Regions from separate parts of the Homo sapiens genome. Here region 1 is linked to region 2. Evidence: fine-mapped expression QTL. A gene starts in region 2. The other region holds a variant in brackets. All regions are shown on one strand. Distances are between the middles of the regions.

Region 1 (16,717 bases), 48 kb before region 2:
CGGCATGGTGCAGATATCCCATGGTTCACTTATATATTCTTATTCCTCTTACAAGGAGCTCTTCTCATTTGGCCTACTTTTCAGATGGAGAAACTTACACAGAGTAATTCGGTCAGATAATTCAAGCCCATATCTGATTTCAAAACCCAAGCTCAAGTATGTTGTACTGCTTATTATCCTTGTCACTTCTCTATATGCTGAAATTTCTGAAAATCCCTCCCAGAACGTGATTTTTTACCAGATTAAGTGACCGCATCTTTCTAAAGCCTCCTTGAAATGAGTCACTTCAGAGGCTCTTCTATTATTAATGCTTCTAATACTTGCATATCTTGAATATCCTCAACTAGTGAATCATCCCATATGGATGCAGTTGAACTTTGTAAAAAGACCATACACACACAAAAGAAATCTGCACAAAAAACCCCCCAAAACCAAAAAACCAAACACACCTGCCTAAAATAGTGTATAATCAAGTTGAGTGAATAAAGTCGGCTACCAAGATGGGATATACTGCTTTTTTCAGATGAGTGAGGGGAGACGATTTCCTGAGACATCAAGATTTTTCTTGATGTTAGAATGAGATTTTTTTTTTAATGGTAAAATTAGTTGACTTGTAAGAATGATACTGTCATGAGTTTTTGACCTAAATTCTTGGAGCCTGTCACTGCTGTCATTGGCTAGGATAATTGTCATAGGGATATGTGTAACTTTAAGGCCTTTGATATGTATTATCAGGAGCCTGCTCCAATTTGAATTATGTTTTCCCTGCCAAGTGCAGCTTTTCTTGGTACAAATTTCTACTTGCTGTTTAGATTTTTGAGTAACAGCAGTGAGAAAGTAACAAAAACAAGCCGCAATTGGGAATCAGGTCAGTCCTACAGGTATTGTGTTACTACTTTGTGGACTTTGTCCTCAAAAATTGTGCTGAAGTCCTATATTGACCTACTTTCTAGACATTGGTTATCCATTCCTGCATGATTTTTAAATAATATTTTCTGTGATTGATGAATAAACTATTTCACTTTCTACTAGAACAAAATGTTCAAGTTGAATGAAGGGTTAAGCCATTTATTGCCCAACTATTCCTCCCCAAGAAAAATATCAATCATATTTCTTTGGCATCCCTGCACACAGCTTAGTTGCCATCCAGTTAGAACCATTTCTTACTACCAACTTTAATTTTAATATCTCTCGATTTTCCTCCTTTTGTTTTTGTTTTGTTTTTTTGTTTGTTTTTTTTTTGAGACAGAGGGAGTCTTGCTCTGTCACCCAGGCTGGAGTGCAGTGGCGTGATCTCGGCTCACTGCAACCTCGGCCTCTTGGGGTCAAGCAATTCTCCTGCCTCAGCCTCCTGAGTAGCTGGGATTACAGGCGTGCATCACTACACCCAGCTAATTTTTTTGTATTTTTAGTAGAGACGGGGTTTCACCATGTTGGTCAGGTTGGTCTCGAACTCCTGATCTTGTGATCCACCTGCCTCAGCCTCCCAAATTGCTGGGATTACAGGCGTGAGCCACTGTGCCCAGCCGATTTTTCTCCTTTAAAAGTCATTATCTGAAAATTATTAGTTTTTAAAGTTCTTTTTCTGTTCCTTTGCTATTCATCTAGCAAGAAAAAGAGTAGACAAGGCCCCAAACTAAATGGACTTTTAACTTTGAAGGGAAAAAAGAAAAGTAATGCTAGGTTGGGCATGGTGGCCCACAACTGTAATGCCAGCACTTTGGGAGGCCAAGGCAGGCGGATCACCTGAAGTCAGGAGTTTGAGACCAGCCTGGCCAAAATGGTGAAACTTTATCTTATAAAACTACAACATTAGCTGGGCGTGGTGGTGCGTGCCTGTCACCCCAGCTACTTGGGAGGCTGAGATAGGAGAATCGCTTGAACCTGGGAGGTGGAGGTTGCAGTGAGCTATGATTGTGCCACTGCACTCCAGCCTGGGTGACAGAGTGAGACTCCGTGTCAAAAAAAAAAAAAAAGTAATACTAAACACAAAGGGTTGGATACAGGACATTTTGAGTAAAAACTAGAGATTACATATGCCAGTACTTAAGAAGCAATCAGAAATACTTTGTGAATTTGAAACTTTATTGAATAGAATCAGAATCCTTGGAGGTCTTAGGAAGCAACCAAACTAAACAATATAAGTAGTAAATACACTAAAGACTACCATTTTACTGAAGTGGGACTATCATGTGCAATGTATATAACTTGGAAGCTAGAGACAAATGTACAAAAAGGTGATTTGGGAGGGAATCATCTAGTGATTTCCTTATACTGTTTTCAGTGTACCAGGGCTTAGACACTTAAAAATGATAAAACCCAAGTTCTGAATATGTCATCAGTGGTTTTCAAACTTTAGCCATATTTCTTCAAAGAAAAATGGGGGCATTGTGTATGTAAAACAGAGAACTACTTTGGTCAAAGGAGGGTGGCCACACCCTACAACTGAATTATACGTTTGGTTCTTAATTTCTTTTTCTTTTTTTTTTTGAGACAGATCTGGTTATGTTGCCCAGGCTGGAGTGCAGCGGTTCACTGCAACATCTGCCTCCCGGGTTCAAGCGATTCTCCTGCCTTGGCCTCCTAAGTAGCTGGGATTACAGGTGCGCACCATCACACCCAGCTAATTTTTGTATTTTTAGTAGAGATGGGGTTTCACCATCTAGGCCAGACTGGTCTCGAACTCCTGACCTCAGGTGATCCACCTGCCTCAGCCTCCCAAAGTGTTGGGATTACAGGCGTGAGCCACCACACCCAGCCTCTGTTCTCAGACTCAATTTCTGAGCTACCTCCTTGGACTATGAGCAGAGGGGATGCAGCAACTAGGAGGCTTAGTGTAAACAGCCAGCCTCCTTCTGCAATAGGTGTTAGAGTGGATGTGGGTCGAAGCTGCCAGTTTACTACAAAGTTGAACTAATTAGTTTTTTAAAGTAGTATGCCATATTAAAATTTACTTGAGTGGGGACTCAGATCGGGTTTAAGGGATTATTACATAAATTAACATTTAAGTAATACTAAAAATAGCTGCCTTTTGTTTCTTTTTATTGTGAAATACAATTGCAAAAACCCATAAAGTCCACACATGTAAAGTCCAACAATTACTGAATGCCCATATAATAATTATGTAAGCCAAAAAATAAAATTTTATCAGCACCTCAGGGACCCAAATCCAGTGTTCTTACAGAAGACTTGAACAGTGGTTTGGTTCTGATTTGGGGCAGTGAATGTAAATGCCAGTGAGACGTGCTGTCCCATGATCCTTGTTTCCTATATTCCAGAAAATAGTAAGCGAAATGCACACTTTGAGGAAAATTTGAGAAATTTTATGTTCAACTATTTAGGAAGCTTCTAAAAAAGTAAACTTTAAAGAAAACTTGATGTGAATCATTAGAAAATTTTTCTAGACATTCTATTTGTAGAATTCAGGGACAATTTACAGAGGCAATGATATAACCAATGCGTCGAGACGCATGATGTATCTTAGGAATGCTGTCTGTTACTCTTCACCACTTGCATATTATTAAATAATTTTCTATACTAGCTAAGGAAAAAATGATTCTCATGAAATAAAATCTGAGTTCCCGGGAAGCATTTCTAGTGTATCTTAGCTATGTGCACTGATAGTGGATCATATATACTTAATGCAGGAGTTTATCATGAATGCTCAACCTGCAGTTTGGAAACTAGTATGGGGTAGAAATATGTGCACCTTTCTGTCTTTGTTTTTTGTTTCAAAATAATATTGTATGTGATTAACAAGAGAAATAAGATGGAGTAAAATAAGGATACTATTTTGAAAATATTCACTACACTCCCCTGTAATTTGCATTCTCTAGCAATCATTCTGCCACTATGGTTCTCATAGGGAAGGATGTCAAGGAGGAGGTTAAAGAGGCAGGCATTTGAGACCTGAGGGTCCTGACCTCTATGACAGTGGTCCCCAACCTTTTTGGCACCAGGGACCAGTTTCAGGGAAGACCATTTTTCCACGGATGGTGGGTAGGGAATGGTTTTGGTATGATTCAAGCACATTACATTTATTGTGCACTTTTTTTTTTTTTTGAGATAGAGTCTCGCTCTGTTGCCCAGGCTGGAGTGTAGTGGTGCCATCTCAGCTCACTGCAACTTCCACCTCCCAGATTCAAGCGATTCTTCTGCTTCAGCCTCCTGAGTAGCTGGGAGTACAGGCATGAGCCACCATGCCTGGCTAAGTTTTGTATATTTAGTAGAGACAGGGTTTCACCATGTTTGTCAGGCTGGTCTTGATTGAACTCCTGACCTCATATTACCTACCTGCTTCGGCCTCGCAAAGTGTTGGGATTACAGGCATGAGCTACCACACCCAGCCTGTACACTTTATTTCTATTGTTATTACTTTGCAATATATAATGAAATAATTATACAACTCACCATAATACACCATCAGTGGAAGACCTGAGCTTGTTTTCTACAACCAGATGGTCCCATCGGGGGGTGATGGGAAACAGTGACAGGTCATCAGGCATTAGATTCTCATAAGGAGTGTGCAATCTAGATCCCTCACATGCACAGTTCACAATAGGGTTTGTGTTCCTATGAGAATCTAATGCCACCGCTGATCTGACAAGAGGCAGAGCTCAGGCGGTCATGTGAGCAATGGCGAGCAGCAGTAAATACAGATGAAGCTTTGCTCACTCACTCGCTGCTCACCTCCTGCTGTGTGGCCCCGTTCCTAACAGGCCACAGACTGGTACTGGAGGCTTGCAGGTTGGGGACCCCCTGCTCTATGGTGTAGCATGAATTTCACCTGTGTCAATATAGCAGAGATGAGAGTGATGACAATTTTCATCCAATGATCCTGCTGCTTTTTTTTTTTTTTTTTTTTTTGAGACGGAGTCTCGCTCTGTCACCCAGGCTGGAGTGCAGCGGCGCAATCTTGGCTCACTGCCAGCTCCGTCTCCCGGGTTCACGCCATTCTCCTGCTTCAGCCTCCTGAGTAGCTGGGATTACAGGCACCCGCCACTACACCCGGCTAATTTTTTGTATTTTTAGTAGAGACGGGGTTTCACCGTGTTAGCCAGGATGGTCTTGATCTCCTGACCTCGTGATCTGCCCGCCTCGGCCTCACAAAGTGCTGGGATTACAGGCGTGAGCCACCACGCCCGGCCGATCCTGCTTCTTTTATCCCCTGGCTGTAATTAAAGAATGCATCACTTCTTAGGAGGTTCCAAGAGAGCAAAGCAAAGAGGGCTTGAGTAAGAAATAGTGAAAGCATCAGGACCTTAAATACAGAGCCACCTAGCTGTACACACCACGGGGAGCCGTTCACAAGCAATGTAATAGACATCAGTTACTACAATGAGTGGTGCCCCCTGAAGTTGTGGAAGAAGGTGGCCCTTTTTGGAATCCCTGTGATTGCTGTATATAGTGAATTTATTTTTAAAACCTTACTTTAAAAAGGAATTTGGTTCTGTAATATGGAAAGAGCTGCTAAAGAAAGGATTTTGAAAAAAATAGTATTAAAGGTCTATGAAGCATTGATAGCACATAAATTCTAAGAAACTCTTCTTGGAAGTAGCATATATGCTAGTTATGTGCTGATACTGGGGGCACTATTTATACTTGGTCATGAATTACTTTGCCCAACATATTCTTCTACAGGAGGGATTATTTCAAGACTGTCCTAAAATAAAAGCACATAAGATAATGTAAGGCTGCTTAGATTATGTTATATTTGTTTTGTTTCTATTCCCAAACCTTGGGGGAAAATCAGGAACTAGACAGATGAAGAATTGTGTTGGCTCAGATACGGAATAAAACTTGAGTGTCTGCTTTGTGTTCTCTCCTACAAATAGATAATGTCCCTTAATTTATCACATCACTTGTTTCTGAACATTTGGTGTAAACCCACCATCTCTTGCCCAGTTTCATTTTCATCTATTGCTCCTAGCTTTCCCAAGATAACATGGCCTGAGCCAAGAACATACTTGAATTCAAAGCTATGGGACCAGAATGAAGGTTGGTTAACCTATCTGTCCCTGGGCATTAGACAACAGACCCTTGAAGCAGCTAAAGCGCCTATCCTGAGCTGGGCACCTTGACTGCCATCCCCACTGAGACCATATGACCTGGGTATGGGTGGCTGGGCAGTAGTGGTGGTGGGGAGAATTCCTGAAAGTTCTCATTGCCTCAGGGATGACTTTCCAGAGGGATGTTTTAACCATAAAAGGAAAAAATGTGCTGGGCAGGCCAAAATAGATGTCCTGTAGAATGACTCAGGGTGAACAAACAGCCGTTGAGACCTCCAATAAGTTCTTGCCATGGTCCACGCTGTACGAAGATGGTCATGAAAGCCATCCAGCACTCCCAGGTCCTGGAGCACACTCTCCCCATTCTCAAGGTCTTTCTCCTAGCAAGTTCCCCAAACACTGTGCCTCAGAAAGAAAAATGGTCAGGAGATTTCCCTCAGAAACTCAAACAACTGATCAGAATAGGGTGATGCTGGTGCCCTCCCACAACGGATTTCCTCCCCCTGGTTCCTGTGGTTTTCATTCTACTGGTCTCCAAGCTGCCATCACATCCAGCCAAAGCAACTCTTTGCTGCCAATGCTGCCAATATGGGCAGCTTTTTCACCAGATGTCTATCGATTAAAACCACTGGTAAGAGCCATTGAACGATGCCAACAATCTTATCTTACAGTGGACTTGGTCTCTCTTAGTTTCCTACCCTAATTTTTTGGTTATCACTACCTTCCTGGGAAAGCTGTTTCCACTAAGATAATCTGTAATGTTTTGTTCCTTCCAACAGTTAGACAGATGGTCATCACAAATACAGTACGTGCCTTTAAATCTGATATAATCTGTAAAAAGAATAGATCACTCAATCTTCCTTATTCTATCATTAGCAAAAAATTACTTGTGATATCACTTAGAGCCAATGGGTGTCACGCTGATGAAAATGAAAATTGCTGCCTCCTCAAGAGATGAAAGAGCCAGACTCACAGCATTACGCCCTTTTAGACAAAGTCTATCTCAGGAGAGTCCGGTAGCGGTGTAGCTCTTTGGTTTTCTTCCACTCTTCAGGAGAAATTGTTAGTATTCTAGCAACACTGTTTTCAGGCACTGGCTGGAATACTTAGCAGGGAGAAAACTGGCCACTCTTGAGTGTTAATGAGGCTCAAAGCATGCTAGCACGTCCTAAGCACAGGGTGCCTGTCCTAACATCAGGCATTTTCACCCATGTCCTCCAAAATACTTAATCTATCAAAAAATCCCAGAAACCCGAGAGTCTGCGGAGCCCTGAGGTATACAGCGGACAGTCTCACATTCGTAGACCCTATGGGCCACATTATGAGCCAACAATGACAGTCTGAAAATTGGGACCAAACATTACTCCATGAATTAAAAACAGCAGCAGCAACTTAAAACAGCAATCAGTTCTATGAAGCAAGAGCTCAAAGCAGAAGTGTGGTAGCTCAGGGAAGAAAGAATGAGCACCAGGAATACATAAAACATAGGCTGGAGGGACTCAGGAACTGAGAGGAAGCAGTAAAGTCAGCATAGAATTGAAAACGAGATCGGAAGAAGCACAGGCAGAGAAGATGCTGCTGACGACACAGGAGCAGAGTCGAAAGCATAAAAGTGGATCAAAGGAAGTATCAATTTGGGATTTTAAAATTTGAGCGAAATGACAGAGAAAATAGACAAAGGAGGTGAAGAGCATAATTGGAGTCTCAAAAAATAAAGTTGAATTGTTGAACAGGACAAACAATAATACTTCAAACATTTTTATAAAATAAAATAGGATCAACATGCTGAAAGAGCACACCATATTTCAGGGAAAACTGGCCTATAATACTAAATATTCATATATATATATATTTTTGAGATGGGGTCTTGCTATATTGCCCACTCTGGTCTTGAAATCCCAGGCTCAAGAGATCCTCCTGCCTCAGCGTCCTGAAAAACTGGGACTACAGATGCATGCACCATGCCCAGCTCTAAATATTTACATGTATCTTAATAAAATTATTGGACTTCATAGATTTTAGAAGGGATCCTTTGGGTGTCCAGGCAAAAAGTTCAAGTAATGTATAAGAAAAAACTCAGGGTAAATTCATACTTCATAGCAACACGAAGCACCAGAAGACACTAAGAAAAAATTGTGAAGAAGAATTTTATCCAGGCAAATGATGATTCCAATACAGACACAATTTTTAATACCCAAGAACTCAAGGATATTGTCCCATGAACTCTGCATAAGTAAGGAAGTTTTAACCAGCAAGCTGACCGGGAAAGTTAGCACAAAGGGATGGGAAGCAATCACTGACTCTATTTTTTTTTTTTTTTTGAGACAGAGTCTTGCCCTGTCGCCCAGGCTGGAGTGCAGTGGCGCGATCTCAGCTCACTGCAACCTCCGCCTCCCAGGTTCACGCCATTCTCCTGTCTCAGCCTCCCAAGTAGCTGGGACTACAGGCGCCCGCACCACGCCCGGCTAATTTTTTGTATTTTTAGTAGAGACAGGGTTTCACCATGTTAGCCAGGATGGTCTCGATCTCCTGACCTTGGGATCCACCCGCCTCGGCCTCCCAAACTGCTGGGATTACAGGTGTGAGCCACTGCGCCCGGCTAACTTTATTTAACAGTATAACCAAGATGAAAGCAAACTCAGGGATTAAAGTGACAGAAAAGAAAGTAAATTTTATATTTTCTGATAATGTAGAAATGATATAATTAATAAAAGTTGGAGCAGAAAAGAGAAAGAAGGTAGGTAGAAATAAGTGTGCAAATTTACTCATCTTTAATAGATGAGGTCAGCGTTTACCATTCAATGCTGGCGAGTCAAATAATAGAGGGTTTTAGGTTTTTAAAAAACACGCTGAAAGGTAAATAATGAGAAAGATAATAAACTAAATTTGGGAATAGTATTGATATGGTTTGGATGTTTGGTCCCTGCAAATGTCATGTTGAAATATGATCCCCAGTGCTGGAGGTGGGGCCTGAGTTCACATGAGATCTGGTTGTTTAAAAGTGTGGCACTGTCCTCTCTCTCTCTCGTCCCCAGTCTCACCATGTGACACACTGACTCCCCTTTGCCTTCTGCCATGATAGGAAGCCTCCTGAGGCCTCCCCAGAAGCAGATGCTGGCACCATGCTTCCTGTGCAGCCTGCAGAGCCGTGAGCCAATTAAACCTCTTTTCTTTTC[C/CTT]TTTTTTTTTTTTTTTTTTGAGATGGAGTTTCGCTGTGTCACCCAGGCTGGAGTGCAGTGGCACAATCTTGGCTCACTGCAACCTCCGTCTCCCAGGTTCAAGCAATTCTGCCTCAGCCTCCCGAGTAGCTGGGATTAGAGGCGCCTGCCACCACGCCTGGCTAATTTTTGTATTTTTAGCAGAGACAGGGTTTCATCGTGTTGGCCAGGCTGGTCTCGAGCTCCTGACCTCAGATGATCCGCTCGCCTCGGCCTCCTAAAGTGCTGGGATTACAGGCGTGAGCCACTACACCTGGCCTTAAAGCTCTTTTCTTTATAAATAACCCAGCCTCAGGTATTCCTTTATCACAATGCAAGAATAAATAAATAGATACTCTCTAAAGAAGTGAGAGATTAAGGGCACAATATAAAGTCACATTTAGAAGGGTAAACTCTGGGAGGAAAAACCCAAATCTTCCTACCTTTCAAAAGAAAAACATATACACACAACACAGAAAATAGGTCATACAGTGACATCTTTTAAAAGATGTAAAAAGAGAAAGCACAAAATAAATAGGACAGAATCAACACCAAATGTATGTGGCTCATCAAAAGTATAAATGAATAAACTTACCTATATAAAGAAAACAATTTTCAGATTGAATCATAAAGCAAAATACAACTTTATGCTGCATTCAGGGGACACAATTAAAAATACGCAAAAAGTTTGAAAATAAAAGGATAAGCAAAAACATATCATTAAAAGTAAAAAATATTAAATGAGGTAATGTGTAGAGTGCTTACAACATTGCCTTGCACCTAATGTGTAGTATTAAAATATCAACCAAAAATAGACAAACTATCCAAAAACAAAGCAGGAGTTGAGCTCTTACTGTTAGACAAGGTTGAGTTCAGGTTCAAAAGTAAGAAACAAAACAAAGAAGAGCGCTTCATAATGGCAGACGACATAATTCACAATATACATCTAATAGTTATGAACAGTTAAGCACCAAATAGCAGAGAGTTAACATTCAATATTCAAAAGGAAAAATTATAGGAGAGACCAGAAAAACAGACCTCAGTGCACTGATGACTTTCAATCGCCTCTCAAGGTCCGTGACAGATCAACTGGACAAAAATCAAGGCTACAGAGGAGCTAGATAACACAGTTAATGAAACAGATCTCAGTTATATATCCAAATATATATCAAATGATGATTGCTGAAAAAAGGCAACGGTCTGTTTTTACAAGTATTCATGGAATATTCACAAAAATGAAAACGTACAGACAACAATCTCAATCACAATGCAACGAAATTAGGAGTTATGTAATAACATCACCCAAAACAAAAACTATCTGCCATCTGGAAACTTTAAAATACTTTCTTAACAGCTCTGGAATTCAAGATGAAATCAAAGTAGAAACTGCAAAATAGCAAATAAAAATAATAGAAAACATTCCATATTTGTATGTATGGGATATGAAGCTTAGCTACAGAGTCAAAGTAAATAAGAAGGAAAATACAAATTAGAAGAATAAAAAATAAATGTAAGGAAAGCAGAATAAAGAAATGAATAATGATAAAATCATAAGTTGATGAAATAGAACAATTTTTTAAATCCACAGAACTGGAAACTAAATTCGAAATCTTTTTTTAAACAATAATATAGGCGAGGTGCAGTGTCTAATGCCTGTAATCCCAGCACTTTGCGAGGCTGAGGCAGGAGGATTGCCTGAGCCCAGGAGTTCAAGACCAGCTTGGGCAACATGGTGAGATCCTGTCTCTACAAAATATATTTTAAGAAATTAGCTGGGTATGGTGGCACATACCTGTAGTCCCAGCTACTCAAGAGGCTGAGGCAGGAGAATTACTTGAGCCTGGGAAGTTGAGGCTGCAGTGAGCTGTGATTGCTCCACTGTACTCCAGCCTGGGTGACAGAGCGAGACCTTGTCTCAAAACAAAACAAAACAAAACAAAAACAATAAAATGGACAAGCCATTGCTTAACCTAATGAAGGAGAAAAACAAGTACGCAAATAAGAATTTATTGAGGCCGGGTGTGGTGGTCCACGCCTGTAATCCCAGCACTTTGGGAGGCCCAGGTGGGCAGATCACCTGAAGTCAGGAGTTCGAGACCAGCCTGTCTAACATGGTGCAACCCCGTTTCCACTAAAAATACAAAAAAATTAGCCGGGCGTGGTGGTACATGCCTGTAGTCCCAGCTACTCAGGAAGCTGAGGCAGGAGAATCTCTTGAACCTGGGAGGCAGAGGTTGCAGTGAGCTGAGATCAGCCACCGCACTCCAACCTGAGAGACAGAGCGAGACTCTGTCTCCAAAAAAAAAAAATTACTGATAAGAGGAAAGTAACCACAAATATAGTGGAAATCTCATATAAAAATGAATAAAATTGTTTTCTAGAAAAGTGTCATTTACCATAATCGATTTTTTTTTTTTTTGAGACAGAGTCTCCTTCTGTCGCCCAGGATTGAGTGCAGTGGCACCATCTCAGCTCACTGCAACCTCCGCCTTCTGGGTTCATGTGAGTCTCCTGGCTCAGCCACCCAAGTAGTTGGGATTATAGGTGTGCGCCACCACACCTGGCTGATTTTTGTATTTTTAGCAGAGATAGGGTTTCACCATGTTGTCCAGGCTGGTCTCGAACTCCTGACCTCAAGTGATCCACCTGCCTCAGCCTCCCAAAGTGCTGGGATTACAGGCGTGAGCCACCATGCCGGGCCCACAATCGATTTAGAAGAGAAAAAAATTTAAACAGATCAATTACCATAAAATAAATAGGAAATTGTCAAAAAAAAGACCCCTCAAATTCCAGCAGTTCCAGAGGAATTCTGTAAAACCTTTAAAGAAAAGACAACTCCCATATCTTATTTTAATTTTTTCAGAGCATATAAAAAGAGGTAACATTTCCAGTGTTTAGTTAATGAACCAAGTATATTTCTACAGAAATATATTGTTATTATTAATAGGTATAAGAAGAAAAATTCTATACAGATATGTATCACTTAATGATGGAGATATGCTCTGAGAAATGTGTCAGGCAATTTTGTCATTGTGCAAACATCATAGCATGTACCTACGCAAACCTAGATGGTAGAGCCTTCTACACACCTAGGATCTATGGTCTGGCCTATAGGTATGGCCTACTGCTCCTAGACTACAAACCTGTGCAACATGTGACTGTGCTCAATACTGTAAGCAACTGTAATACAATGCTAAGTATTTGTATATCTAAATATAGCTAAACATAGAAAAGGTACAGTAAAAATATGGTACAAAAGATAAAGAACGAACGCCTTCACAGAGCACTCACCATGGATGGAGCTTGCAGGACTGGAAGTGGCTCTGGGTGAGTGAGCGAGTGAGTGGGGAGTGAGTGTGAGGGCCCAGGACATTACTGGGCATGGGTATAGACTTTATAAACACTGTACACGCAGGCTATGCTAAATGTATAAACAATAATTTTTCTTTCTTCAATAATAAATTAACCTTTGGCTACTGTAACTTACTTTATCGAGTTTAATTTTTTAAACTTTTTTGTAATAAAAGCTTAAAACATGAAAACATTGCATAGCTGTGCAAACATATTTATAAGCTTTTTCATGTTTTTTAAAATTTTTATTTTTTATGTTTTTACTTTTAAAACATTTTTTGCTAAAAACTAAGACAAACACACACATTAGCCTAGGCCTACACAGGGCCAGGATGATCGGTATCACTGCCTTCCACTCCTACAGCTTGTCATCTCCTGTAATAACATGCCTTCTTCTGGAATAACTCCTAAAGGTCCTGCCTGAGGCTATTCTACAGCTTTCTTTCCTTTTTTTTGTGATGCAGTCTTGCTCTGTTGCCCAGGCTGGAGTGCAATGGTGTGATCTCAGCTCACTGCAACCTCCACCTCCTGGGTTCAAGCGATTCTCCTGCCACAGCCTCCCAAGTAGCTGGGACTACAGGCATTCGCCACTATACCTGGCTAATTTTTGTATTTTAAATAGAGACGGAGTTTCACCATGTTGGCCAGGTCAGGCTCAAACTTCTGACCTCAAGTGATCCGCCGGCTTTGGCCTCCCCAAGTGATAGAATTACAGGCGTGAGACACCGCAAAGCAGGAGTACACTCAAAAATAACAATGAAAAATATAGGATAGTAAATACATAAGCCAATAACATATCCCTTTATTATCAAGCCTTTCATTATGTGCTGTGCATGATTGTATGTGCTATACTTTTAGATGACCGGCAGTTCTGTAGGTTTCTTTACACCAACATCTTCACAAACACGTGAGTAATGCATTGTGTTATGATGGCTATGATAGCACTAGGTGATAGGAGTTTTTCAGCTCCATTATAATCTTATGGGACCACCACGGTATACATGGTCCATTGTTACCAAAACATCGTCATGCAGCACATAACTACTCATGTCTAAAAAAGCTATCAAAGACATTGGAAAAATTCCATATTCATACTTGATGTAAGTTCTTAACAGGAGTATACAAATACGTTGTTAGCATAATGAAATATATTTATCTCAACCACAAAGAATCTGTTTAATATGGAAACAGCGTGGATGTAATATTGAAACACTCCTGCTAAGTTATGGACAAGATAAGCACTTTTTTTTTGGTGGGGGGATGGAGTCTTGTTCTGTTGCCCAGGCTGGAGTGCAATGCCGCGATCTCGGCTCACTACAACCTTCGCCTCCCAGGTTCAAGCAATTCTCCTGCCTCAGCCTCCTGAGTAGCTGGGATTACATGCGCGTGCCACCACGCCCACCTAATGTTTGTATTTTTAGTAGAGATGGGGTTTTCACCATGTTGGTCGGGATGGTCTTGAACTCCTGTCCTCATGATCCACCCACCTCAGCCTCCCAAAGTGCTGGGATTACAGGTGTGAGCCACCCTGCCTGGCAAGTACTATCTTAAGCTGAGGAGATACGCCATTTCTCTTACTGTTTCCTGTCCCTGAAGAGAAGGAGGAAGTAAAAGCTGAAAAACAACAGAAATGAAGTCAGTGGCAAGACCAACCGGTGCCACTGACCAGGCCTGAGGTTAAAGATTAACCCCCCACTCTAACTACGTGTATTACCTATAGATCACTTGCTGGATATCTTTCACGTAGACCCCCATAGAGTTGTAAGCCCTTAAAAGTGTGTCCAGACTTGGTTCCCTCTGGTGGATTCTTGGTCTCACTGACTTCGAGAATGAAGCTGCGGACCTTCACAGCGAGTGTTACAACTTTTAAAGGTGGTGTGGACCCAAAGAGTCAGCAGCAGCAAGATTTACTGTGAAAAGCGAAAGAACAAAGCTTCCACAGAGTGGAAAGGGACCTGAGCAGGTTGCCGCTGCTGGCTGGGGGGTGGCCAGCTTTTATTCCCTTATTTGTCCCCACCCATGTCCTGCTGATTGGTCCATTTTACAGAGTGCTGATTGGTCCATTTTACAGAGTGCTGACTGGTGCATTTTTACAGAGTTCTGATTGGTGCATTTAATCCCTTAGTTAGACACAGAGTGATGATTGGTGTGTTTTTGCGGAGTGTTGATTGGTGCACTTACAATCCTTTAGCTAGATGCCAAGTGCTGATTGGTGCATTTTTACAGAGTGCTGATTGGTGCGTTTACAATCCTTTAGCTAGACACAGAATGCTGATTGGTGCGTTTACAATCCTTTAGCTAGACACAGTGCGCTGATTGGTGCGCTTTTATAGAGTGCTGATTGGTGCGTTTACAATCCTTTAGCTAGACACAGAGTGCTGATTGGTGCATTTTTACAGAGTGCTGATTGGTGCGTCTACAGTCCTTTAGCTAGACACAGAGCGCTGACTGGTGCATTTTTACACAGTGCTGATTGGTGTGTTTACAATCCTTTAGCTAGACACAGAGTGCTGACTGGTGCGTTTGCAATCCTCTAGCTAGACAGAAAAGTTCTGCAAGTCCCCACTCAACCCAGGAAGTCCAGCTCGCTTCACCTCTCAAAAAGGCCAGGAATTTTTTCTTCAGGGAGCTTGGTTCTTGAGATGCAAGTCTGCCAAGGTTCCCAGCTAAATAAAGCCTCTTCCCTCTTTCAGCCGGTGTCTGAGGAGTTTTGCCTGCAGCCCATCCTGCTACAAAGCAATATAATTAAATGAGAGAAAACCAGCCTGGTCAACATGGTGAAACCCCGTCTCTACTAAAATACAAAAATTACCCAGGCATGGTGGTGGATGCCTATAATCCCAGCTATTTGGGAGGCTGAGGCAGGAGAATTGCTTGAATCTGGGAGGTGGAGGTTGCAGTGAGCTGAGACGGTGCCATTGCACTCCAGCCTGCCATTGCACTCCAGCTGTGCGACAAGAGCGAAATTCTGTCTTAAAAAAAAAAAAATTCAATGAGAGAAATATATGTTTAAACATTGGAAAGAAGGTAAAATCATTGTTATTTAGATATAATTGTATACTAGAATTTCCACCCATAATCAATTTAAAAATCTAAATAAATAAGTGAATTCAGTCAAGTACCTGGGTATGAAATTAATGCCAAATACCAATACAAATCTGGTGCTTTAGAATATAAAAATAACCAACCAGAAGACATAATAGAGAAGACCTTATTTACAATAGCAACAGAAAATAAACTATTTAGTGATAAAGAAGCATTTAAAATCTGCATGCAGAAAACATTGAAATACTAAGGGACAAGAAGGAATTTTTCAACAAACAGGAAAACACATAAAGCTCTTAGATACAAAAATTAACTTCATAAGTGTAATAGTTATGTTTGTTTATCTATATTTTAACATGATCCCAAGAAAAATACCAAGAGGATTTGTATACTAGATAAGCTGATTCAAAAGTTTGTAGGAAAAAAAATATAAGTAGTCAGGAAAACTCAGAAAAAAAAAGAATAATGAAGGGGTATTATCCCTACCTGATATTAAAACATATTTTAACCCTATAAATAAAAACATATTTTAACCCTTGGAGTCATAAAAGTTAAAATTGTATAGTAGTGGAGCATAACAAGATAGGAGATAAATGGGAGAAAATAGAAAGTTCAGAAATCAGTCAAATTTTCTAGGGAATATAAAATATGATAAAAGCAGCATTTTGAACTAGTGGGAGAAAGATAGCTTAATCAAAAACTAAATTAAGTAGCAAATTGGAAATGAAATTAAGATCCATCTCTGCTCTCCAACTTACACCAAGATAAATTCAAAGACTTAAATATAAAGTGTAAAACTATGAAAGTACTAACATGAGCAAATTAATCTTGAAGTATGGTGTGGGGTGGGGGCTGGTGCTTTCTAACTTTGACACAAAATTCAGAAGCCATTAAAGGAAAATACCAATTACTATGCTGATATGTTTTGGTTGTGTCCCTACCGAGATCTTAATGTGAATTGTATCTCCCGGAATTCCCACATGTTGTGAGAGGGACCCGGCGGAGGGGGGGTGATTGAATCATGCAGGCCAGTCTTTCCCTTGCTATTTTTGTGATAGTGAATAAGTCTCACAAGATCTGATGGGTTTATCAGGGGTTTCCGCTTTTGCTTCTTCCTCA
Region 2 (16,717 bases):
AGCCTCCTGAGTAGCTGGGATTATAGGTGCCTGCCACTGCACCCAGCCAATTTTTGTATTTTAGTAGAGGTGAGGTTTCATCATGTTGGCCAGGCTGGTCTCAAACTCCTGACCTCAAGTGATCCGCCTGCCTTGGCCTCCCAAAGTGCTGGGATTACAGGTGTGAGCCACTGCACCTGGCCAGCAACTATATTTTTTGTTATTTAAAAAAAGTATCACAAATAGTCTCCATAAATAAAATTTGTATATCTCAGTCCCTAAATTTTAATTTTAATGTTCTACCATCATCAGTAATGGCTCAAATAGTCATTTCTTTCTCTGATTCTTCTATTTCCCCTTAATATATAGCTTTTTAGCTTCTAATACTTCCCATATAATTTTCCCCCATATATTTTATATCTTTGTTTTTAATCTAATTTTCGTACTTACTTTAGCCAGATACCAGAAGAAAACATGTGTTGTGTCACTTCAGGCACTTTTTCGAAGTCTTTTCCCTGAAGATATCATTTCTGTGATGAAAAGATGTTGTACTAAAATATCTGCAATATACAGTATAGTTAGAACAAGAAAATGAAAGTACATCTAGACTGCAGTTAATGAACACTACCTATGTTTTCTCAAGGTAACAACAGAGAAAAATAAATAAAATAAGATAAATTATTTGTATTAAATGAATATTTTCATTTTCAAAATTTCGGTCTCATTTTATAGAACTGGCACATTTAAAATTACCTGATTTAGCAAAATAAGATCTAAATACAATTTTCCAGAAATGTATGTATTGTGTAAAGTGAGATATACTGGTTTCATGTATAAAACAGTCAGAGAATGTCAATTTATGGAAATAAATAATTTTTAAATATCTGTTACCCTTACTGGGCATGGTGGCTCATGCCTATAATCCCAGCACTTTGGGAGGCTGAGGCGGGCAGATCATGAGGTCAAGAGATCGAGACCAACCTGCCCAACATGGTGAAAACCCATCTCTACTAAAAAATGCAAAAATTAGCTGGGTGTGGTGGCGTGCGCCTGTAGTCCCAGCTACTTGGGAGGCTGAGGCAGGAGTATTGCTTCAACCCAGGAGGCAGAGGTTGCAGTGAGCTGAGATCACACTACTGCACTCCACCCTGGTGACAGAGCGAGACTCGTCTCAAAAAAAAAAAAAAAATCTGTTACCCATGAAAGATAATCAATACCTATCAAATATTGGATTAACCATGCTAAGAGCAATTAATGTAACAATAGCTCCAATAAGACCTCATTAAATAATCAAGTACTTCAAATAAACAATAGATTTAGCAAAAAGCACCTAGCCGACAGCATTAGTTTCATTTTTAAAAGACTATTCTTTAGCTAGTGCTGAAAGCATAAGGCATTGATCCTTTAAAATAAGAATAAAGGATACACAGTTTCTAGTACTTTTGACTGGGTGGTTACTTGAAACATTATTCTCCAGGAAATTCTAATTTTCCTTCAGAGATGTTAAATTTGCTGCGAGACTTCACAGAAAAATATTTTATGATATCCGAGTTCTTAATTTTTTCCCATGGGCCTGCTTCTCCCCTCAATAATTGTCAGCCAGAAAAAAGATAATTATTTGTTTAACTCTTAAACTTTTAGGTATATACTTATTTTATGGATTGTTATATGACACTGGGCAAGCTAACTTCTCTGCGTCCCAATACTATCACCTGTAAAAAAGCTGGTCTGTAGGTGATCTGTAATAGTGATCTCCATCCTCTTCCCCATCCTTACATAGATGATGGTTAGGATAAACTACCATCAGCAACACTGGCTCCTCCAGCTACCCAGTTGAGCTGCCTGTTGCCTGCTCTTCCTTCCTTTGGAGAAATCGTTGATCTAAGATAACTTCAGCATTAAAAAATTACGAGTCTAGAGTGATCATGAGATTGAAAACAACTATCTGAAATCATGCAACCTTGAGATGCATTTTCTTTTTGAGACAGGGTCTCACTCTGTTGCCCAGGCTGGAGTGCAGTGGTACGATCCTAGCTCACTGCAGCCTCAAACTCATGGGCACAAGGGATCCTCCTGCCTCAGCCTCCCAAGTAGCTGATACTATAGGTACACACCACTGCACCCGGCTAATTTTTTAATTTTTTGCAGAGACAGGATCTCTCTGCTACTTAAGCTGTTCTCACGTTCCTGTTCTCAAGTGATCCTCCTACCTTGGCCACCCAGAGTCTGGGGTTACAGGTGAGCCACAAGGCCGGCCTTTTTTTTTTTTTTTAAATAAAAACATCTTTTTTGTAAGGTTCTTAGTAAAAATAATTATAATAATAATATATATAAAGGGTGAAGGCTGTGCCACCACAACTTTCAATACATTCCCTTCCTGCCACTCACTTCCATTTGATGAAATCAATAGGAAAATTGCTGTACAACAAAGAGTAGCATCTGACAGGCACTGTGCCAACCTTTACCTCACACTTTCAAAGACCGGAAGAGTTCAAGGCTTTAGTTTACACATGGTTTGGCTACTCTCAGACGCTAGGCAATTGTTGGGTTTCCTGATTACCTGCAAAAACATTTTTGGATAACAGCTCATTGAGAAAAAGGGATATCTACAAAGACAGAATATGTCATTTTTATGGATCTAGCTATTATGTTATTTGTATAGGTTGAATAATTTATATGTACTATATCAACTATTAAATTTTGGACAAATTTTTAGGCTTTGCCAGCAAAATTAGACCAAAATTTCAATTTTGAACAGAGTATAAATCTCTCTTCTCTAAATTAAAAACCCTTTCCCCTGCTTTTAGAAAACATAATTGCATAATTCAAACTCCTTCAAAACTGTGACCTAGTTCCCCCTCTTGATGTTATAAAGGGCTCATGTAACTATGGTAACTAACCAGGGAAAATTGAATGTTTTTCTGGTCAGCAATATGCAAAGTATACCATATGTGCTATTTTTTCTCTTTGGGATAGCTAAGGGGATATTACGTTTGCCTTTTTTCTTGTTTATGAAAATATGAGATCTTATTATACCGAATTTCCTCTTCACTACAATCCCAGTCATTCACACGGTCCCTTCGTTAAAACGTTTTAGGATCATATTTTGCTTTTAGTAGTCATCCTAAATGCTGAATAGTACTATAATCTAAAGCAGTAGGATTGACTGTATACACCAGTTAAATCTGTGCAGTCTAACACATAAACTCCAAGTACAGGGTGATATTGCTCAGATTTCTAATATTCCTTCTACAGAATCTGATATTTTCTTAACTTTGTCCTTTTTTTTTTTTTTTTTTTTTTTTAAATGAGACAGAGTTTTGCTCTTGCTGCCCAGGCTGGAGAGTGCAATGGCACCATCTTGGCTCACTGCAATCTCTGCCTTCCGGGTTCAAGCGATTCTCCTGTCTCAGCCTCTGAGTATCTGGGATTACAGGCACATGCCACCACGCCCGGCTAATTTTTGTATTTTTAGTAGAGATGGGGTTTCATCATATTGGTCAGGCTGGTCTCGAACTCCTGGCCTCAGGTGATCTGCCCACCTCGTGGCAAAGTGCTGGGATTACAGGCATGAGCCACCACACCTGGCCTAACTTTGTACTTCAATCCTAGCCAAAGTGTTTTCTTAAAGCAAAAGAACTGCTAAAATGGAATTACATCTTGGAGTATATTTAGATATTGAGAAGAGTTATCTCCAGTTTGTAGTGACTTTTATATATCTTTTTATTTCTATTTAAATTTTTTCTACAATAATGTGTATTACTTATGTAATAAAGTAATAAAAAATGCTTTAATGCTTTAAAACTGAGTTCAGTGGAGACGCACACCATTAGGTTTTGTTTTTTTTTTTTCTTTGAGACGGAGTCTCGCTTTGTCGCCCAGGCTGGAGTGCAGTGGCATGATCTCCGCTCACTGCAACCTCCGCCTCCCGGGTTCATGCCATTCTCCTGCCTCAGCCTCCCCAGTAGCTGGGACTACAGGTGCCCGCCACTACGCCCAGCTGATTTTTTGCATTTTTAGTAGAGACGGGGTTTCACCGTGTTAGCCAGGATGGTCTTGATCTCCTGACCTCGTGATCCGCCCGCCTCGGCCTCCCAAAGTGCTGGGATTACAGGACTATTAGGTTTTTCTTTAGTTGCTTTTTGTACTAATGAATTGATTTAAAGTTTTAGGGTTTTTCACTATAATTTAAGATGCTTCACTGGACCTTCTAGAACAAATTACACTCTAACACAGCCTCCTAGATTACTAAGGATTTATTTATTTGCATCAGGTACAATTACATTTCTTACAACACGCTATCAATTGGTGACTTTTCATATGAGGATTTCTTCTTGAATTTCTCCATATTTAAAGCAGTGATTTTAAACTACTTAAATATCTTCCTCAGAAAAACATTGCTCTCTGCTTCACTGAATTAAACAGGGAATTAACTGCCTCTTACTGGTTTGGAAAAGACCTCAGTAACCAAATAAAATGCATGGGATTTGCTGGATCCTGTTAAACCAAATGTGAAAGATTTACTGAGACAATAGGAAAATTTGAATTGTGTAGTTATTAAATGATAGTAAGAAAATTTGGGGAGGCAGAATACATGGTATTACGGATATGCTTAAAAAACTGTTATCTTGGCCAGGCATGGTGGCTCACGTCTGTAATCCCAGCACTTTGGCAGGCCAAGGCGGGCGGATCTCTGGAGGTCAGGAGTTCCACACCAGCTTTAACCAACATGGTGAAACCCCCTCTCTACTAAAAATACAAAAATTAGCTGGGCATGGTGACACATACCTGTAATCTCAGCTACTTGGGAGGCTGAAGCAGGAGAATCGCTTGAACCTGGGAGGCGGAGGTTGCAAAGAGCCAAGATCGCCCCATTGCACTCCAGCCTGGGCGACAAAAGCAAGTCTCAGTCTCAAAAACAAACAAACAAAAAACAACTATTATATTTTACCTATTCATATTATTCATATTTAAAGTATTTACAGATAAAATGATAAAAATCCAGCAAGAGTGAGGGAATGTGAAGGGCTATAGATTAAATAATCTTAGCCATATGTTGCTAAATGTTGAAGCTGGGTAGACGGTATATAAGGATTTATTGTAGTATTACTTTTGCCTTTGAAAATTTCCATAAAAGTTTAAAAATATTAAAAAGTAGAAAAAAGAAAAGGATTTCATTTATTTGATCTGACTCAAACAGAAGCTGAATTTTCTCAGCAGGCATCTTTAGGAATCTTTCACCATTACTTGCCAGTTTGTTTTCAACCAGTTTGAAGTTGTTGCTCTCCCCAAGAGACAGGTACGGAGGCGTACACATTTCCTGCCAGGGACCTCTTAAAGTCAGACTTAGAAATTCAAGGTAATCCCAGACTAATTTGGGGAGATCAGTTACTTATCTTTTTTTTAGGGTTGCTTTATGGTAGATAATACACTGTAGAGCAAATAAAATGCCTTTTTGCTTTATTCACAGGATTAAATACCATAAATTAATTTCTAGTTGCTGAGAACGGGAGATTTTAAATTTTGCATTTAGAAGACAAGAAATTCAATCTGAAGAGGCCCCATATTTCCAGTTAAGTGACCACTCAGAAGGGAAGGACAGCGCTCAATAACCAAGGTCAAGAGTTGGGTTTAGGGTTTGTGGCGATTTTTTTTGGGGGTGGCAAGAATAAGCCGTAGATTAATCTCTTAAAATAAATATAGCAAGAAAAGCATGCCTAAAATAATTCATACATATACATATATTATCATATTACAGTGTTTTACAGTTTTAGATCAGTACCAGCTAAAATATTCTTTGGATTGTTTTTGCTTTTTTACCAGCCTGTTCAACAGAATTATAAAAGGTGACAATAATGCTATAAATGTCTCCTATCCCATGCTCATCCCTCCTCTCATCTTGCTCTGTTTCTGGAGTACTCTAGGTATTCTGCATCTTTGCCTTTTTCCCCTTCTAGTTTCTAAACACATTTCTTATCTACTTGCAGATCACTTATCAGACTGAATAAAATCCATAGGTACATTCGGTGTCTGACCTGTAACAAGGCACCCCACATTATTTTGCGCCTTTGATAAAGACCAGCTTATTCAAACTTGTGAGAAAACAAAAATAGCAGGGTTCAAGTAAAAACCAGTAAAATTCAGTTCTTCACAGTGGCGGTTTTTTGACAAGACCCGGCCGAAAGATTTCACGAACAGTAAAATCCCAGAATGTTCTCAGAAATACTATCCACTGTACTGTCTGGGTTGCTTAATACTGGCCCAAACCTCAGTGTCCTAGGATAATAACCCAAGACAATTTCCCAGTCCTTTGAAATAGTTGACGTCCCAAGATGTCAAATTGCCTGGAGTGCTTTATTTTGGTTTGAAATTTAAAATTTCCTCTAGATAAAGATCTAGATTTCTCTTTGCAAGTCAAAGGCTAGTTACTATTAACAGCTGTTTCAAAAGTGCTCTAAATAGGTCACCATTCAGGTGTACCAACGCTGCAAACTGGATCTAAGAAGATCCAAATTTGTCACCACTCACTCACATTTTAACTCAAAGGTAGTACTCACAATTGGCCTTGTTTACATAGGCATTCCATTAAAATTATCCATGCATTCATTCTATTTGCACCCATTTCTTTCAAAAATGTCCATCTGTAATTAAAATCAGCTCCTCTGCCTGACATCTCATTTACACTACACCGAAATTAAACCCCACTAGGAGATCACGTAGATTATGGGGCCGAGGGCCCGCCCGCTGACTAGGTTTTCACTCGCGTCTCCTCCATGCCCCAGGTCCCCTCCGATTGCAGTCCTGGGGCAGGACTGAGCAAAAAGTCCCGTAAAGCTGGCGTGTGCCCCACTCCGCCAGGAAGCCTCACCGACGTCCTGTGCTTAAATGTTCTGACACCCCCCAAAAGCAGTTGTTTTTAAAGGCTGTCTGTGGGACCAATGCGTTGTCAAACAGATGCCGTCCCGCATCCCCTCCCCCTAAATGACACAGAAGATTCCAGCGTAGGGGAAGGGCCACGAAACCCGCAGGGCACACGACGCCGGGGGCCGGAGGGAGCACCGCCTACCTCCCTGATCAAGCCCCGCGGTGCCGGGCGAGCCCGAGGGCCCGGCAGGAGGCGGGCGGCAGCCCCAGGCGAGCTCGGAGGCGGCGGGAACGCAGCCGCCGCGCATGCCGGGAGCCGCACGCCGCCCGCCGGGGCGCGCAGTCCCGCAGGCCTCGCTCCAGGTCGTCCGAAAAGGAACCGCCTGCTGCTCCTTTGCAGGCTCGCGAGGAGCCGCACTCGGACCGCCTGATGGGGAAAAAGCCGGTGTGGCCGGGCGGAGCGAGCCGAGCGGAGCTGGAGCTGCCCCTCCCAGCGGGGAGGACGGCACGAAGGACCGAGCCGCCTCCCCTCCCGGGTCCCATTCAGACGCGAGGCGCAGAGACTGGCTCCCCGGGCTTCCCCTTTAAGGGGGGCGGGGCGCGGCCTGCCGTTTGGCCGCCCCCCACACCCTCCCCCGCTAGCCCAGAGCCGGCAGACCAATCGCCCGGGCGGCGGAGCGAAGGCGGGAGAATGCGAACCCTCCGGTAGGCGGTAGGGGCGGGCCCCGGCCTTATTCGCAGGGAGCGCTGCGCAGGCGCAGAGGCGGCCGCGGGCGGAGGGGCGGGGGCAGGCTAGCGGGAGGCTCTCCGTGAGGCACGGAGGGTGACTGGGGACAGGCGGGCGGCGACGGGCTTGTCATGGGGATCCGGGCTGCGAGACGGCACTCGTAGCATCTGGGGACTCCGAGGGGGACAGGAAGTGTCAGCGCCCGGGACCCCGGCGCCGGCCCCGCCGAGGGGATCCCCACTGCTCCGGTCCTGGAGCGGGAGGGGAGAAAGGAGGGAGCCCCGGTTTCGCCCCGCCCCTGGGCTGGTGCTGCGGGGGCGGGGAGTGAGGGCTGCTCTGGGGGGAGTGGAGATCGGGGAGCGCGGCCGTGCCCTCTCGAGCGGCTGCGGGGTCCCCGCGGCGCCGGGCTGCTGAGCTGAGGGCCCGCGGCGGCCGCGGCCGGTGCATGTGCGGCTGCTGGATGCGGAGGCGGCGGCGACGGCGCGGATCGGCAGGATGTTAGGGCAGCAGCAGCAGCAACTGTACTCGTCGGCCGCGCTCCTGACCGGGGAGCGGAGCCGGCTGCTCACCTGCTACGTGCAGGACTACCTTGAGTGCGTGGAGTCGCTGCCCCACGACATGCAGAGGAACGTGTCTGTGCTGCGAGAGCTGGACAACAAATATCAAGGTAGGAGCCGCGGGGCTGCCGGCCTCGGGAGCCGGTGGCGGGGAGCCTGTCCGGGGGAGTGCCACCTTCCCTTTCTCCCGTGACAGTCTCCCCGAGCGCACCGAGGGTCTGCCGAGCGGGACTGGGAGGACTGGAGACCGGGTTGGCGGCCCTCCGTGGCCCCGCGGTGGGCGAGTACTTCTCTGGGGTCCCCAGAGTGGGGGTGGGGGCCGCTTGTCAGCCCCCGCTGCAGACCCAGCGGCTGCAGCTGCCGCTGAGGGGAATCAGCCATTTTAAGCAGCAAGCATTTGTTCAGGCGCTGGCCCGCCCCGTGCCGCAGACCCTGCGGCCCCGGCCCGGGACTGCAGCCGGGCAAGGGTCGGAGGGAGTGAGCGGCCGGGCTCCCGCTGGTCTGCGGGGCGCGCTTCCCCACCTCACTCGCCCCCACCCCGGAGTGCGGGTGCTTTGGAACGTGCGGGGGGAGGGGGCGAGAGGCCGCGGAGGCGGACTGAGGGGGCCTTCCTCCGCGCTCCTGCCCCGGCCCGGAGGAGAGCAGTCCGTTCCGCTCTCTCGCCCCGGGAAAGTTCGCGGGCGCCCCGCGTTGTAGCCCTAGCCCAGTTCTTTCGGCAAAATGGTTAAGAGGGGAGGGGTCCCCCGCGGGAGAGGAAGAGAGGGGCGTGTGTGGCGGGGAGGGCCCCCGCGCCGGGGGCGGGGCCTGCGGGCTTGACGAGGGGCGTGGGAGGGGCGCGGCGCGCGTTCCCGCGGGCCTGGAAAATGGCTGGTCGCGAGAGGGGCGGTGGCGAGCTGGCTGCTGGGGAGGGAGTCGGGGCTGTGCGGGGGCGTTGGTTCGGCCCCAGCGGAGTCCGAATCGGGGTTTGCAGCATGTTTTGCGGTGATGTTTCCAACCTCTTTCCCAGTCAATGGATCAGGACGGCGATCAGCAGCTCGGACCGTCGCGGATCCTGGCTCCGCGTAGGTTCCGGGACATGTGTCACTTCCGGGCTTCAGGAGGAAGTGGGTTGGTTGACTGGGCAACCGCCTGGCGTCCCCGAGCCCCTCCTTCTCCGACTTTAAGTGTGGAGGCGAAACCACCCTTTGCCGGCCGACCCGGGAACCCGGGACAGAATCGACCTTCCTTACAGTGTTACCACCTACTATCGGTGGTGCTACTAGGAGGGCAGTTTAAAAGGGGAAATGTGTTGCGCTTAATAACCTTGAATCGAGGAACAGACCTTGAACATAGTATGGAAACAGCCATACGAACTTTAAAGATAATTTCCTGGACCCATTCTCTGTTTTTGTAGACACGCCAGTAATCCTATACTTTAAAAGTCTCTAAGGAATCCACTTCTTGGGTGACATAAGTGTCTGATGTTTTTTAGTTTATAAATTTGTTTCTGTTTTCTGAATCCATAGGATTCATAGGACTGATCCGTGTTTGGGGAGGGGGTGGGGAGGGAATTAAAACTGATGCGCTGGGTCCAGACCATTATATAAATATTTCTTTTACAGATTACAAAGAGTTCAAGTAACTCGTCCAGTTAATTCGATGTAGAATATTTGGCTCCAGAGCCTGCTACTGTAGATGCATATCTTTGTTTTCAAACAATTTAAGTTTTAATAAAAACTGTCCAAGGGGATTTCTACAGATATGGAGCACAAACATGAATGGTAACCTAAAAATGATACGTGCTTAATAATTGTATATGGAACCTTTCTAGTTTTTCAGATAACACCAAAGTTTGTAAAGCTTGTAGTTTGTGTTGTTGTTTTAGACAGAGCCTTGCTCTGTCCCCTAGGCTGGAGTGCAGTGGCTCGATCTTAGCTCCCTGCAACCTCTGCCTCCCGGGTTCAAGCGATTCTCCTGCCTCAGCCTCCCGAGTAGCTGGGATTACAGGCAACTGCCATCACGCCGGGCTAAGTTTTGTATTTTTAGTAGAGACGGAGTTTCACCATGTTGGCCAGGATGGTCTTGAACTCCTGACCTCAGGGGACCCGCCCGCCTCGGCCTCCGAAAGTGCTGGGATTACAGGCGTGAGCCACCGCGCCCAGCAAGCTTGCAGGTTTTTACATTTCTTTGAAGGCACATGTTTCCTTTCACAAGAGTTAAGCTATTTGAAGTTGGTGAGGGATACTATAATTTGTTGACAGGGAAATCTTTCGGATCATCTATAATTGTCAGGTATTAATAGCTCTGGTAACATTAGTAATATAGTAGGCCTTACAAGATTGAGAGATTATACAAATTCTTAGCTCTATGAAGTTTGTGATTAGTGATTAAAAACTCATCTAGTTTTCACTCTGCACGTGGTTACTGAGCTCAACTTTCACAGTTTTATGTTTATGTATATTTTGGGTTCAGATTTCATGTTTTTTATATCTTCACTAGTGCTTAAGTATTTTCTGGTTTTGGATCTAATATTTCTAGCAATATTTAGTGATATAAATTATATAGGCAGTCAAATTTCTTTCTAACCTACTTGAGACACTTTCAGAACTGCTGAAAAACTTATAAAATGAGAAATAAAGAAGAAAACAATTTCACAATTGAAGTACTTATTATGGGATAGGGTTATTAGAGAACCTTTATTTTTATTCTAGTGTTCCCACTCATAATTTCTTAGATAAATAACAACCTTCAAACTAAACTTTGATACTTAATTTCAAGTGCCTTTCATATAGTTTATAGAAAGTGCTTACACTGCGAGGTCAGACATACAGATCTGGCACAGTTCAAAGTCTGGGGTTCTTATCTCTTGAGTTGCAGTTTTTTTCACAAGCAGAAGTGATGGCTTCCTCATGGGGTTGCTGTGGAGATTAACTGAGAAAATCTTTACCACATAGAAGGGGCTGAGTAAATGTTAATTTCTTGTCTTCTTTCACTATATAATACGGTATCTTACAAATTTTTTATCTCATCTATCAATGTGCTGGTATGATATATACTGTACTTAGCCTCTAACACCTGATTATTAGGTACAAAATATTTGAAAAGAGGTTTGCCTCTTTTTTTTTTAATCCTCAATTTTTTATGTGTCTGAGGGAACCAGTTTCCTTATTTTTCCTGTAGGGAAATGAGGTTCTTAAGAAATCTGCTTAGATGCCGAGCTAAGCAAATGGAATAGACATGAACTTTGTTCGAAAATATGCTATGCAGGTGTAAGTACTCTGAACTGTGTGGTGGCACTTTGTTATATATTCCAAGTTAGACAGTTGTACATCAAGTACGAGTACCTGCGATTTCCAGGGAGAAGCTGATTAATGAGTTCTGTTGAATATTTGCTTTTGTGTGCCTTACTTGCAGACAGCCCCAATGTATATATCTACTTGCCTAACATTTCTGTTTTTAATAATTATAATATTGGAATATAAAACTAGTATGCCATGTGGTATGAAAAATACCATGCGGACAGAACTCTTTGAGATAGCATTACATCTTGTAAGAATAAGAAATAAAACGGATTCGAGCAAAACTAATCTTAAGTAAATTTTTGGTGACATCTGAAATTATATTTTCAGATTTTTGGATACCTTCTAGTGACTCAGCTATTTTTACTTGATTTAAGTAAGTGTATTCCACGTGCCATACAACTAAATCAGCAGTTCAGAAAGCTCAGAACCAACTACTGATTTATCTACAAAGGCAGAATGATCGAGTGCTGACTTTATTGTAATTTTGTTAGTGGTTTGGTCAGTTGATGCCAGAACCAGAACCTACTCTGGAAATAGTTTCATTTTCAGAATTTCCCATGTGAGGCTAAAGTAGAGCCATTAAAAGTAAGATGATGGGAAGCTAAGAGTTGCTTATGCCTTCTTTGTTAAGAATGTATGATGTGAAAGTGAAGCTATATCTCCGGAGTCATGTCACAAGTCATTGTCACAAGTCATTGATTGGACTGTAAATCCTGTAAACACAGTTGGGCAGTAATCTGTAGCCTAGTCCTGTAACCTTTTCAAGTTTTAGAGCTGGACCCCAGCCTGCACATTTTATATATAGGGTTGTTTTGAAGGTGTTACAGTACTTAGTAGACTAAAGTGGCATTCAGTGTTCCTGCCCATGAGAAATACTTTTGATCATTAATTAGCCAAACATCTCTTATCCTTTTTTTTTTTTTTTGAGACGGAGTCTTGCTCTGTCTCCCAGGCTGGAGTGCAGTGGCGCGATCTCGGCTCACTGCAAGCTCCGCCTCCAGGGTTCTCGCCATTCTCCTGCCTCAGCCTCCTGAGTAGCTGGGACTACAGGCGCCCGCCACTGCGCCCGGCTAATTTTTTTTGTATTTTTAGTAGAGACGGGGTTTCACCGTGGTCTCGATCTCCTGACCTCGTGATCCACCCGCCTCGGCCTCCCAAAGTGCTGGGATTACAAGCGTGAGCCACCGCGCCTGGCCTTTTTTTTTTTTTTTTTGAGATGGAGTTTTGCTCTGTCGCCCAGACCGGAGTGCAGCGGTGCGATCTCGGCTCACGGCAACCTCCGCCTTCCGGGTTCAAGCAGTTCTCTGCCTCAGCCTCCCAAGTAGCTGAAATGATGAGGGGCGCCTGCCACCATGCCCGGCTAATTTTTGCATTTTTAGTAGAGACAGGGTTTCACTATCTTGGCCAGGTTGGTCTTGAACTCCTGACCTCAGGTGATCCACCTGCCTCGGCTTCCCAAAGTGCTGGGATTACAGGCGTGAGCCACCGCGCCCAGCCTCTTTTTAATATAGATTAATGAGTATTAGTTTTGTGTTCTTTCTTTTCATTACTTTATTTCTAACTATACTTTCATATTAGATAATGTGGTCTTTGTATGAAATAGTTTTTAATGTATATGTACCAAAGAGGAGTATGGTTTCATGGTTTGAGTTCTAATTTCAATTCTGTAAAAAATAACTACCTTGGAAATGTTGTGTCTGCTAACACATGATAACGTTCTCATTTTTCTTTTCCTTTTTTTAGAAACGTTAAAGGAAATTGATGATGTCTACGAAAAATATAAGAAAGAAGATGATTTAAACCAGAAGAAACGTCTACAGCAGCTTCTCCAGAGAGCACTAATTAATAGTCAAGAATTGGGAGATGAAAAAATACAGATTGTTACACAAATGCTCGAATTGGTGGAAAATCGGGCAAGACAAATGGAGTTACACTCACAGTGTTTCCAAGATCCTGCTGAAAGTGAACGAGCCTCAGATAAAGCAAAGATGGATTCCAGCCAACCAGAAAGATCTTCAAGAAGACCCCGCAGGCAGCGGACCAGTGAAAGCCGTGATTTATGTCACATGGCAAATGGGATTGAAGACTGTGATGATCAGCCACCTAAAGAAAAGAAATCCAAGTCAGCAAAGAAAAAGAAACGCTCCAAGGCCAAGCAGGAAAGGGAAGCTTCACCTGTTGAGTTTGCAATAGATCCTAATGAACCTACATACTGCTTATGCAACCAAGTGTCTTATGGGGAGATGATAGGATGTGACAATGAACAGTGTCCAATTGAATGGTTTCACTTTTCATGTGTTTCACTTACCTATAAACCAAAGGGGAAATGGTATTGCCCAAAGTGCAGGGGAGATAATGAGAAAACAATGGACAAAAGTACTGAAAAGACAAAAAAGGATAGAAGATCGAGGTAGTAAAGGCCATCCACATTTTAAAGGGTTATTTGTCTTTTATATAATTCGTTTGCTTTCAGAAAATGTTTTAGGGTAAATGCATAAGACTATGCAATAATTTTTAATCATTAGTATTAATGGTGTATTAAAAGTTGTTGTACTTTGTCTGTGACCTTAATTTTCTGCACTGAGTTACCAAATATTTCCAACCAGGTAGTCTTCAGATCACCTGATGAAAGGAGCAGGGAACAGGAAGAGGGTGGTGTAAACATTATAAAAATTTCACAAACCATGCCTATTTCATTTTCACTTAAAACTGCAATGTTATTTTTTGGGTAAACACAAAAGTTTCACTAGCATTTTAGTTATACATGCTTAAAAAAATGTTAGATGTAGTGGGATTTCTCTTAAGCATCAAATGATCTTGGGTACTTTAAAATACAGACACTATGCCATTTGAGCTGCTTTTTCCCTAGTCCTATTTATACGTTGGCTTGTTCATCTCTAGTCTTCTAGGAGTTTAAGGAACTGGAGATAAGAGTAATTTGGGATTCCATGTGGAATAATGTGCTCTTATGAGAGTACGTGCTGCTGTCTTTTGCTTAGTAGCATTTTGATCCACTGTCAGTAGCCCATTTGTCAATGCCTTGCTGCTGCTTTGTAGATATACTTAGTCTAGTGCTTAATAAGGGAGTTGTTTTGTGTTTTCTTTTAATTGGGACAGGTAAGAGTAGTTAGCATACCAAAAATATACATTGGCTTACATTGGCAAACTTTGGGTTATATAGTATCACGGCTCAAGGTTGAACAATTTAAAAATACATCTTAATTAATAGTATTTTCCATGTGACCTGCTGCCAGGATGCGTAGCCACAGGCCTATCAGTGGAAAGGGGCATATAGTAGTCTTTAAATATTGCCTTTATGTCAGAGAGTTGTTTTAAATGGTTTTGCTAGTGGTTATTGTTCATTTCTGTCCCAATCAGTGACTATTTTAAATAATAGTGTATTTACTGTCTTAACTTCTAGTATTGGTGCTGTTTGATGTTTTCACATTTAATTAACTTATTTCATCATCATAATGCAATTAATGTATTTGTAAATTGAATTTTCCAAGATTCTGATATTTGAAGGGTAAGCATCTTGATGGATATATGTCCATATGTTTAGAGAAGGTTTTGGTTTTGGGGGCAGCAGATTGACTAGTTCTTTAAATCTGTGTGTAACGTATGTTTTATTCCTCATTTCTTCCTAATCTGATGATCTTGATTCTTTTTGATTAACATGAAAAATCCTGTCTGCTTGTTTTGGGAAAAAAAAATGCTTTTTTTCTCTTCTAGCTCTCCTGTGTGACTTTTAGGCATGTCATTTCACCTTGTCTGGGTGTCAGGTCATTCACCTGTAAAATGAGTTGGCTTAAATATCTCCGAGATTCCTTGGAAATTTCTACTATTTGCACTATAGTGAGGATTTTAATAATGACATGACTTCTCTTTTCATTAATTTTGTCCTTCATTCTGAGGTATAAAGATAGTTTAAAGGTGAGTTTGGAGATGGGTAAATGTGCAATATTTGTTAGCTTCTGTCCTAAGAATATTTGGATTCATGACTAGAGCTAGTTGATTCTATTACCTTTTGAGTGAGAAATGTTAGACAGCATGATTAAGAATTTAGCAAATCCTTTCTCATCACCATAACTTAGCTGAGTTGTAAGGAAATCCTTTTGAGAATATGGCATTTTGTTTTAGTGATTACAACCTTGTTACCAGAATGGAGCTTTTTACTTGACACCATTAAAAATATCAGTATGGACAAAACCCCCAAAGCCTTCAGATGCGACTTACATAGAAGTCACCACTTTTTCATACGTAAATCTGCCTTGGCAGATGGGAGAAAAGAAACGACTTCCTAATAGAAATGCCAAAGTTTGGATTAGACTTGACGGGAAAACGAACCTGGAAAATCCTGGAAGGTGTGCTCTCTTTAAGACCTAATATCTGAAACAGTTTTATGACTTTTTTGTTTTGTTTTCTACACATCTTGGAAATAGAAGTCTTAAGCATGCGTAGCATTAGGACTGGAATTTCTTTTGTTGAGTATTCTGGATCTCATATCATGGTTACCAACTCATACTGTATACACCAGTGGTTCCCAAACTTAACGTTGGAATTACCTGGGAGTTTCAACAAATACTGATATCTGTGCCCCACCCTCAGCAATTGTGATCTAAATTCATTTGGAATGTGGCTTAAGCATTAGAATTTTTAAAAGATCCCCATTATAATATATGGAAATGTTTTGGAACCACTGCCACATTTCACAGTTTTCAACTTATTGAAAGCTGCTGTGGATTATCTACATCCAGATTTATGCAAATCTGAAGCAGATACAGATGCTTATACACACATGAGAGTATCTCCTGCCCCCAGTGGCTCCACCACCAGTGCCTGAATACTCAACATCTGAGTGCTAATTAATGTGCCAGGCACCGTTTTAAGCAGTTGTGGTGTAAAAAGGAAATATCCCTGCTTGTGGACGATACATTCTAGTGGAGGAGTCAGATACATAAAATGTCAGGTAAATTGCTAAAGTGAAAGGAAAACTGAGTAAAGGGCTGGAAATGAATGGAAGGGGGGGTGGCAAGTCTTTTATTTATGGTAATTTAAAAAGGTGTCCCTAAGGAAGTAATCCTTAGAGCTAAGAGCAGAAATAAGGCAGGCAAAGATTTGAGGGAGGGAGGAGGGAACAAGCTTGGCAGGTTGACTAAAGCAGGGCATTAGAGCACAGTGTACAAGGGGCTGGGAACTGGGGACTCTTGGAAGCCATGGTAGGAAACTTGGGAAGCCATTGAGGGGTTTGAGCCATGGTCTGACATAAAGGTCACTCTGGATACTGTGTATACAATATTATAGGGAAC

Direction of the effects. Alleles are on the strand shown, and positions count from the first base shown. SD is a standard deviation of normalised expression in the study named.
For the expression in prefrontal cortex of the gene that starts at base 7,385 in region 2, allele C in region 1 goes with a lower level than allele CTT (small effect, 0.28 SD a copy in ROSMAP).

What was found. PIP is the estimated chance that this variant, and not a neighbour inherited with it, causes the effect.
Region 1: its variant is the best candidate, but not a certain one, in a credible set for the expression of ING2-DT in prefrontal cortex (ROSMAP, PIP 0.58).

What each region holds. Positions count from the first base shown.
Region 1 is chr4:183,449,413-183,466,129 of GRCh38, forward strand. No RefSeq gene overlaps it. Among named protein-coding and RNA genes, the nearest start is that of CDKN2AIP, 13 kb to the left of the region's middle. The variant C/CTT (reference allele first, on the strand shown) is at 9,185.
Region 2 is chr4:183,497,131-183,513,847 of GRCh38, forward strand. It overlaps ING2-DT (ING2 divergent transcript), which reads right to left and starts at 7,385. Exons shown (of 3, transcript NR_033995.2): 1 at 7,046-7,385; 2 at 430-539. It overlaps ING2 (inhibitor of growth family member 2), which reads left to right and starts at 7,928. Exons shown (of 2, transcript NM_001564.4): 1 at 7,928-8,237; 2 at 13,152-15,299. The coding sequence starts at 8,066. The coding sequence ends at 13,822. RefSeq lists silencers at 7,010-8,049, 8,270-8,989, 9,230-9,279 and enhancers at 12,015-12,515, 12,516-13,016.